2 linked regions of the Homo sapiens genome follow. The protein of the gene in region 2 purifies or fractionates together with the protein of the main gene of each other region. This does not show direct contact. Each region holds a gene or a part of one and is shown on either strand. Other genes may lie near its edges.

Region 1 (3,658 bases), on a different chromosome or scaffold from region 2:
TTTTGATGAAGTCCAGTTGATCTTTTTTTCCTGTTATGGATTGTGCTTTAGATGTCATATCTAAGAAATCTTTGCCTAATATGAAGCCACAAAGGTTTTCTCCTATCCTTTCTTCTAGAAGTTTCATAGTTTTAGGTTTTACATTTAGGTCTGTGACTCTTTTCAGGTTAATTTTTATTATAGGGTGTGAGGCCTGGATTAAGGTTTACTTGTTCCAGCACTATTTGTTGAAAAGGCGATAGCCTTTTCTGTGAACACCAAAAATTCCTTTGTCCTATGAACACCAAAAATTTGAGACAGGTCTCAGTTAATTTAGAAAGTTTATTTTGCCAAGATTGAGGACACACCTGTGACACAGCCTTAGGAAGTTCTGATGACATGTGCCCAAGGTGGTCGGGGCACAGCTTGGTTTTATACATTTTAGGGAGACACGAGACATCAATCAATATGTAAGAAATACATTAGTTCCATCCAGAAAGGTGGAGACAGCTCAAAGCAAGGCCCCCCCATTGGGGACTTCCAGGTCACATGTAGGTGAGAGAGGGATGGTTGCATTCTTTGGAGTTTCTGATAAGTTTTTCCAGAAGAGGCAATCAGAATATGCATCTATCTCTGTGAGCTGAGAGATGACTTTGAATAGAATGGGAGGCAGATTTGCCCTCAGCGGGGTCCCCAGCTTGAAGAGGCCCAAGATATTTCCCTTTCACAGTCCATTGAATTGCTTTTGTGCCTTTGTTGAAAACCAGTTAACTATATGTGTCATGGAAGGGTTTAAGGTAAGTAAACAAATTGCCTTTTTTTTTTTTTTTTTTTTTTTTTTTTTAAAGAGACGAGGTCTTGTGTTGCCTAGGCTGGTCTCAAACTCCTGAGCTCAAGTGGTCCTCCTTCCTTGGCCTCCCAAAGTACTGGGATTACAGGTATAAGCCACTGTGCCCAGCCATAAATTGCCTGGCTCAGCCTTCCGAGTAGCTGGGACTACAGGCGCCCACCACCACGCCCGGCTACTTTTTTGTATTTTTAGTAGAGACGGGGTTTCATCATGTTAGCCAGGATGGTCTCGATCTCCTGACCTCGTGATCTGCCCGCCTCAGCCTCCCAAAGTGCTGGGATTACAGGTGTGAGCCACCGCGCCCGGCCGTAACCACAGGTCTATAAATTACCATTTTTAAGATTACTCTGTCTGCTATGTGGAGATAATAGATTGAAGTAGGTATGGATAGTGATAGTGAAAATGGGAACTGGTATTTATTGTGTATTTTATGGGAACTAGTACTTACTGTGTGTTTACTATGTACCAAGCACTGTCCCGCACCTTTTACATAGATTATCTTGTTGAATCCTCAGAATGGCTCAATGAGGTACACGCTGTTTTTTCACTTTACTGATGGGGTAGTGAGGCACACAATAACCTGCACAAGGTCATTCCATTGGTAATTAGAGATGGGAATCAAACTCAGCCAGTCTGACTCTTGAGCTGCTCTTCTCAACTGGGCTTCTGTGGGAGACTTAATACCTAATGCCCTAAGGCCTCCATTGTCTATAATGAATTCTTCTTTTTCCCCTGCATCTGTAACAGTACTAGCTATGTATCATTCTTGGGAGAACTGAGTAAAGAGCCACACAAATCATTTTCTGTAGGTTTAGAACTCTTGCAGAGCCCTGCTTCAGAAAGGCTACTCAGTGCTCTTGCTCATAATCACTGGAGTAACTGCAGGGTTCTGAAGAGATTAAGGTGGGTCAGATTCGGAGGATGGCAGCAGGAACTGAGGGAAATGGACAGACTGGATGGTCGTGGAGACACACAACTTGAGAGAGAGGTCAGGAATGACCTCCAGACCTCTGCCGCAAGCAGCTGGTTGAATAGTGTTACCATTTACTAAGTTGAGAAACAACTGGGAAACTATAAGTTTTTATGGTGGGATGGGATGGGGCTTTCATTTTATGATGATAGCTTTCATTTTCTATATATTGATTGAGCTTGGGTAGCTTGAGATGCATAAGTGATATAACTTGGTTGTAGTTCATGATACATGGTAGCCATGCAGGGTTGTAGTCAGACTCTCCCATCTTTTGTGGGCAGCGCGGGGCGGGGTGGGGGTGTGCATAGAACCAGCTAGAGTGTAATTTTGAATGGAGGACACTTACCTAAGACTCAGCACTCCCTGATAGTACTGTCTGCAATGATGGAAAATGTTCTGTATCTGTGCTGACCAGTGCTGTAGCCACTAGCTACATGTGGCTGTTTCGATTTTGACTAATTAAAATTGAATATTCAAATGTAACCATTCTAGGAAATATCTGTACCTTTGAAAGTATTAATATTTCTTAGTACTTTGGCAAGACATGGTCTGCTGTATTTCATATGGTGTTTTACTATGTAACTTATTTACTTTGTACCTAATCTAATTGTTTCACATTACCTATTTTTTTTCTTCTTTCCAGCTGTTAGGCAATTTTCTTCAGTGGTATGGCATTTTCTCAAATAAAACTCTGCAAGAGTTATCAATAGATGGTTTATTAAATCGATATATTCTCATGGCTTTTCAGAATTCAGAATATGGAGATGACAGCATCAAAAAAGCCCAAAATGTGAGTTAAATGCATAGTACAGTTTTTAAAGCATATAATTTAAAATGAATTAAGTTTTTGTTTGTTTGAAGAGGGATTTGAGAATTTTATGAAACCCCTTTGATTACTGGACTTGCATGTAAGGTTGACAGTTTGCCTACCCAGGTAGTTCCAACCCCCTACAGCATTTTTTACATAAAAATGCATACTGTTATATATATATATATCCATCTATATCCATATTTTTATAGATATTAGTGAAAGTTTTGATATTTTTATAGGTATAAATAAAAGTTTTGATTTCAGAATAATAACCTTATTATCTTAACCTCAGTCTGGGCCAACTCGACTTCCCTTAGCAGCATGCATGGATGTCTATTCGTGGAATTATTGCAGGGGATGGGGGTGCTGTAATTTCATTTTTATACCACTCATTTTTACATCAAAAGCTGCTGGAAAAGGAAATTCAGTATATTTAGGCCATCCTAGAAGACTGGAAAATGAAGCAGTTGGTTGTCAGTTTTATGTTACTAATTTACTCAAATATTGGACAGATTATCTTTTGCTTTGAGTGCCTAACCCATTGGTTGGGGTAAAAATTTAGGTATATTGGTTTAGTTAATGTAGGAAGTCAGATTTAAAAGAATATTTCTTCAGAGTAATTGCTGTAGCTCAGAAGCACGTCTTCTGGTGAAATACATTTATACCCATTAACTAGACTTTGCTTTTAATACTTTAATTTATTCTGTCTTAACTATTTTATTTTACGTCTTTCTTCTCCACAGGTAATCAATTGTTTCCCCAAACAATGGTTCATGAATCTGAAAGGAGAAAGGACTATTTCTCAGTTAGAAAACTTTTGCCGATACCTTGTACACTTAGCGGATACAATTTATAGAAATAGTATCGGGTGTTCTGATGTGGAAAAAAGAAATGCAAGGTAATTTTGTAATTAATGAAATGGTAATCTAGAGTTGTTTAGTTGCCAGATTTAGTATTAAAATGTTTTAAGTAGAGATGTTTATATTTTAGTTTAAATTGTATGTTCACTTAGTATTATAAACCTACCAAAAATGCACATAATTTTTCA
Region 2 (2,756 bases):
GAACAAAAGGAAAAGAAATAGTATGCAGCTGTACAGACATACTACAGGAAAAAAAGACAAGGGTTGTGGGAAGGATGTAATTATGGTAAGCATAGCTGGAGCAAAGACTGTATAACCAACTCTGTTTTTTCTTTCCTTTTTTTTTTTTAAATTCTTTTTAAATTGATACAGGGTCCCGCTATGTTACCCAGTCTAGTCTTGAACTCCTGGGCTCAGGCAGTCCTCCTGTTTGGCCTCCCAAAGTGCTAGCCACTGCGCCTGGCTCCAACTCTTCTTTTTCTTGGAAAGGGAGCATCTAATTCAGCAGTCCCAACCTTTTTGCTGCCAGGGACTGGTTTTGTGGAAGTCAATTTTCCATAGACCTGGGGTCAGGAAAATGGTTTTTGGATGATTCAAGCACATTACATTTATTGTACACTTTATATTTTACAATGTAATAATAGAAATAAATAATTATACAACTCAACATAATGTAGAATCAGTGGGAGCCCTGAGCTTGTTTTCCTGCAGCTAGACAGTCTCATCTAGGGGTGATGGGAGACAGCGACAGATCATCAGGTATTAGATTATCATAAGGAGAGTGCAACCTAGATCCCTTGCTTGTGCAGTTTGCAGTAGGGTTTGTGCTATGAGAAGCTAATGCCGCTGCTGATCTGATGGGAGGCAGAACTCAGGCGGTAATGCAAGCAATGGGGAGTGGCTGTAAATACAGATGAAACTTCACTGGCTTGCCTGCTGCTCACTTCCTGCTGTCTGTGTGGCCCAGTTCCTAACAAGACATAGACCAGTACCGGCCTGGGGGTTTGGGACCCCTGATATAATTGTATCTTAAAGACTGTGGTAGAACCTAGCAGGCAAGAACTCTTAAGTTATGACATCAAAGCATTAAATTATTTGGATTAAGACTGGACAGAAAGCAATGCCTCGTAGTATCTGCAAAAGGGCAAAAGAGGAACTTAATGTAGGTATGAGAGATGCCAAAAATGTTTATAACAAGCAAGATAAAAATGGAGATTCATTATGGACAATTCATTGATAATAGAGAACTTATTTATACCTAACCTTGTTCCCGAAAGGTTATAAAATGTCTTACAGATGAATGTACAATAAAATATCGAATGTAATTAAAGATACATAGATAAGGACATCCATAGAGAAAATGAGAAAGGACTAGTAGTGTAGTTCACAAAATGTACCATTAGTTCTTGCATATTTTTTTAAGAACTTGACTTAAGTTTTCTAGCAGTCATCCTAAAGAGGAAAGATAATAATTTTTACATTGGCTATTAAAATTCAAACAAATAGTCACCGAGGATCTAAGATCAGAGAGAAGTTTATTGAAGGTCTTCATAAATGACATTATACTGTCCTCAGTAACTTCCTCGCAGTAAATATGTCAACAAGTTCTTAGGGCTTTTAACCATAAGGCTGATGGTTTAACTCAGAGACAATTCATTAAAAGTGATTCTATAGGAGTCCAAAATGATAGATTCCAGGTATTCAGACGGATAAAAAGTCATTGATAATCTCATGATATTTTTGTGAGTATGATGAGTAATAGGGTTTGGATAGGTTCTTGTTTGATTTTTATCTTTCCTAAACCTATTTTTCTGATTAGACCATCTTCAGTTTCTGAATTATAAAATCTGTAGGAGTTTTAAATAACAAAACCTTCAAGATAGGGTAGGGAATATTTTCATTTTATTGCCACTGACATCCTTTTGGGGGAAGTTAAGAATTCTTTTAAAAAATCCCCAATTGTATCAGAGTTATCAGACCAGTTCTCTTTGTCATATGAAGATTATTAAAACTCTTCCTTTTACCTGTTAATTACAAAATGAAGACACATATTAACATGCCTATTTTTTCTCTTAACAGCATATCTTTCTGAAGCCATGAAGCTGACACAGTCAGAGCAGGTGAGACATATTCCCAATATTTGCGACAAGGGTTAGAAAGGTTTTCTTGTGGAGGCTTGAATTGTGTGTAAAGCAAAGCATTGTGTCCCTCTCAAAATGCTATAGTCAAAAATATATAAAATGGGCAAGGGAAGAGCACTTCACAACGGAAATTAAAACTAAATGAACTGCAGTCGATGCCCCAGACATGGAATGCAGAAACTTCTTTTTTTCTAGTGGTTACTCACAGATCTCAGATTGCCAGCCAGATGTACCTTTTAGAGAGCCCTCTTCGGACCATTCCTAATCATTAGCTCTTATTTGATCATTAGCTTACAGTCAGTAAACAGGCCTGGCCAAGAGGAAACTAGTTGGACCACCCTTTGCTTGTCAAAGATAATTTAAATCTGACCAGTCTCCCACTTGTCTTTGCTTGAATTCTTAAGCAGTTCAGGCACTTTTAAATTTGTTTCACCAATTGCTTTAAATTGTCTTCTGTGTTTGGGGAGGCCCTGCCAAGTGTTTCAAGATACATTTATTCATAAGACTGGGCATGGTGGCCCATGCCTGTAATCCCAGCACTTTGGGAGGCCAAGGCAGGGGGATCACTTGAGCCCAGGAGTTCGAGACCAGCCTTGGCAACACAGTGAGACCCCATCTCTACAAAAACTTAAAAAATTAGCTGGGCGTGGTGGCACATGCCTGTAGTTCTAGCTACTTGGGAGGTTGAGGTGAGAGGATCACTGAACACCTGAGTCCAAGGCTGCAGTGAGCTATGACTGCGCCATTGCACTTCAGCCTCAGCAACAGGGACCCTGTCTCTAAAATAAATATATATAAAATATCTTTTTAAAAACT

Evidence for each region. The genes of interacting proteins can lie anywhere in the genome.
Region 1: the proteins of NRBF2 (region 2) and PAXBP1 purify together in Homo sapiens (affinity purification with mass spectrometry; one large-scale study listed by BioGRID and IntAct). This does not show direct contact.

The regions. Positions count from the first base shown.
Region 1 is NC_000021.9:32,737,104-32,740,761, reverse strand, and holds part of PAXBP1 (PAX3- and PAX7-binding protein 1), read left to right. Parts: intron 1-2,420; exon of another isoform or gene 2,421-2,442; coding exon 2,443-2,589; intron 2,590-3,353; coding exon 3,354-3,508; intron 3,509-3,658. UniProt on the Homo sapiens protein: Adapter protein linking the transcription factors PAX3 and PAX7 to the histone methylation machinery and involved in myogenesis.
Region 2 is NC_000010.11:63,150,272-63,153,027, forward strand, and holds part of NRBF2 (nuclear receptor-binding factor 2), read left to right. Parts: exon of another isoform or gene 1-85; intron 86-1,878; coding exon 1,879-1,919; intron 1,920-2,756. UniProt on the Homo sapiens protein: May modulate transcriptional activation by target nuclear receptors. Can act as transcriptional activator (in vitro). Involved in starvation-induced autophagy probably by its association with PI3K complex I (PI3KC3-C1).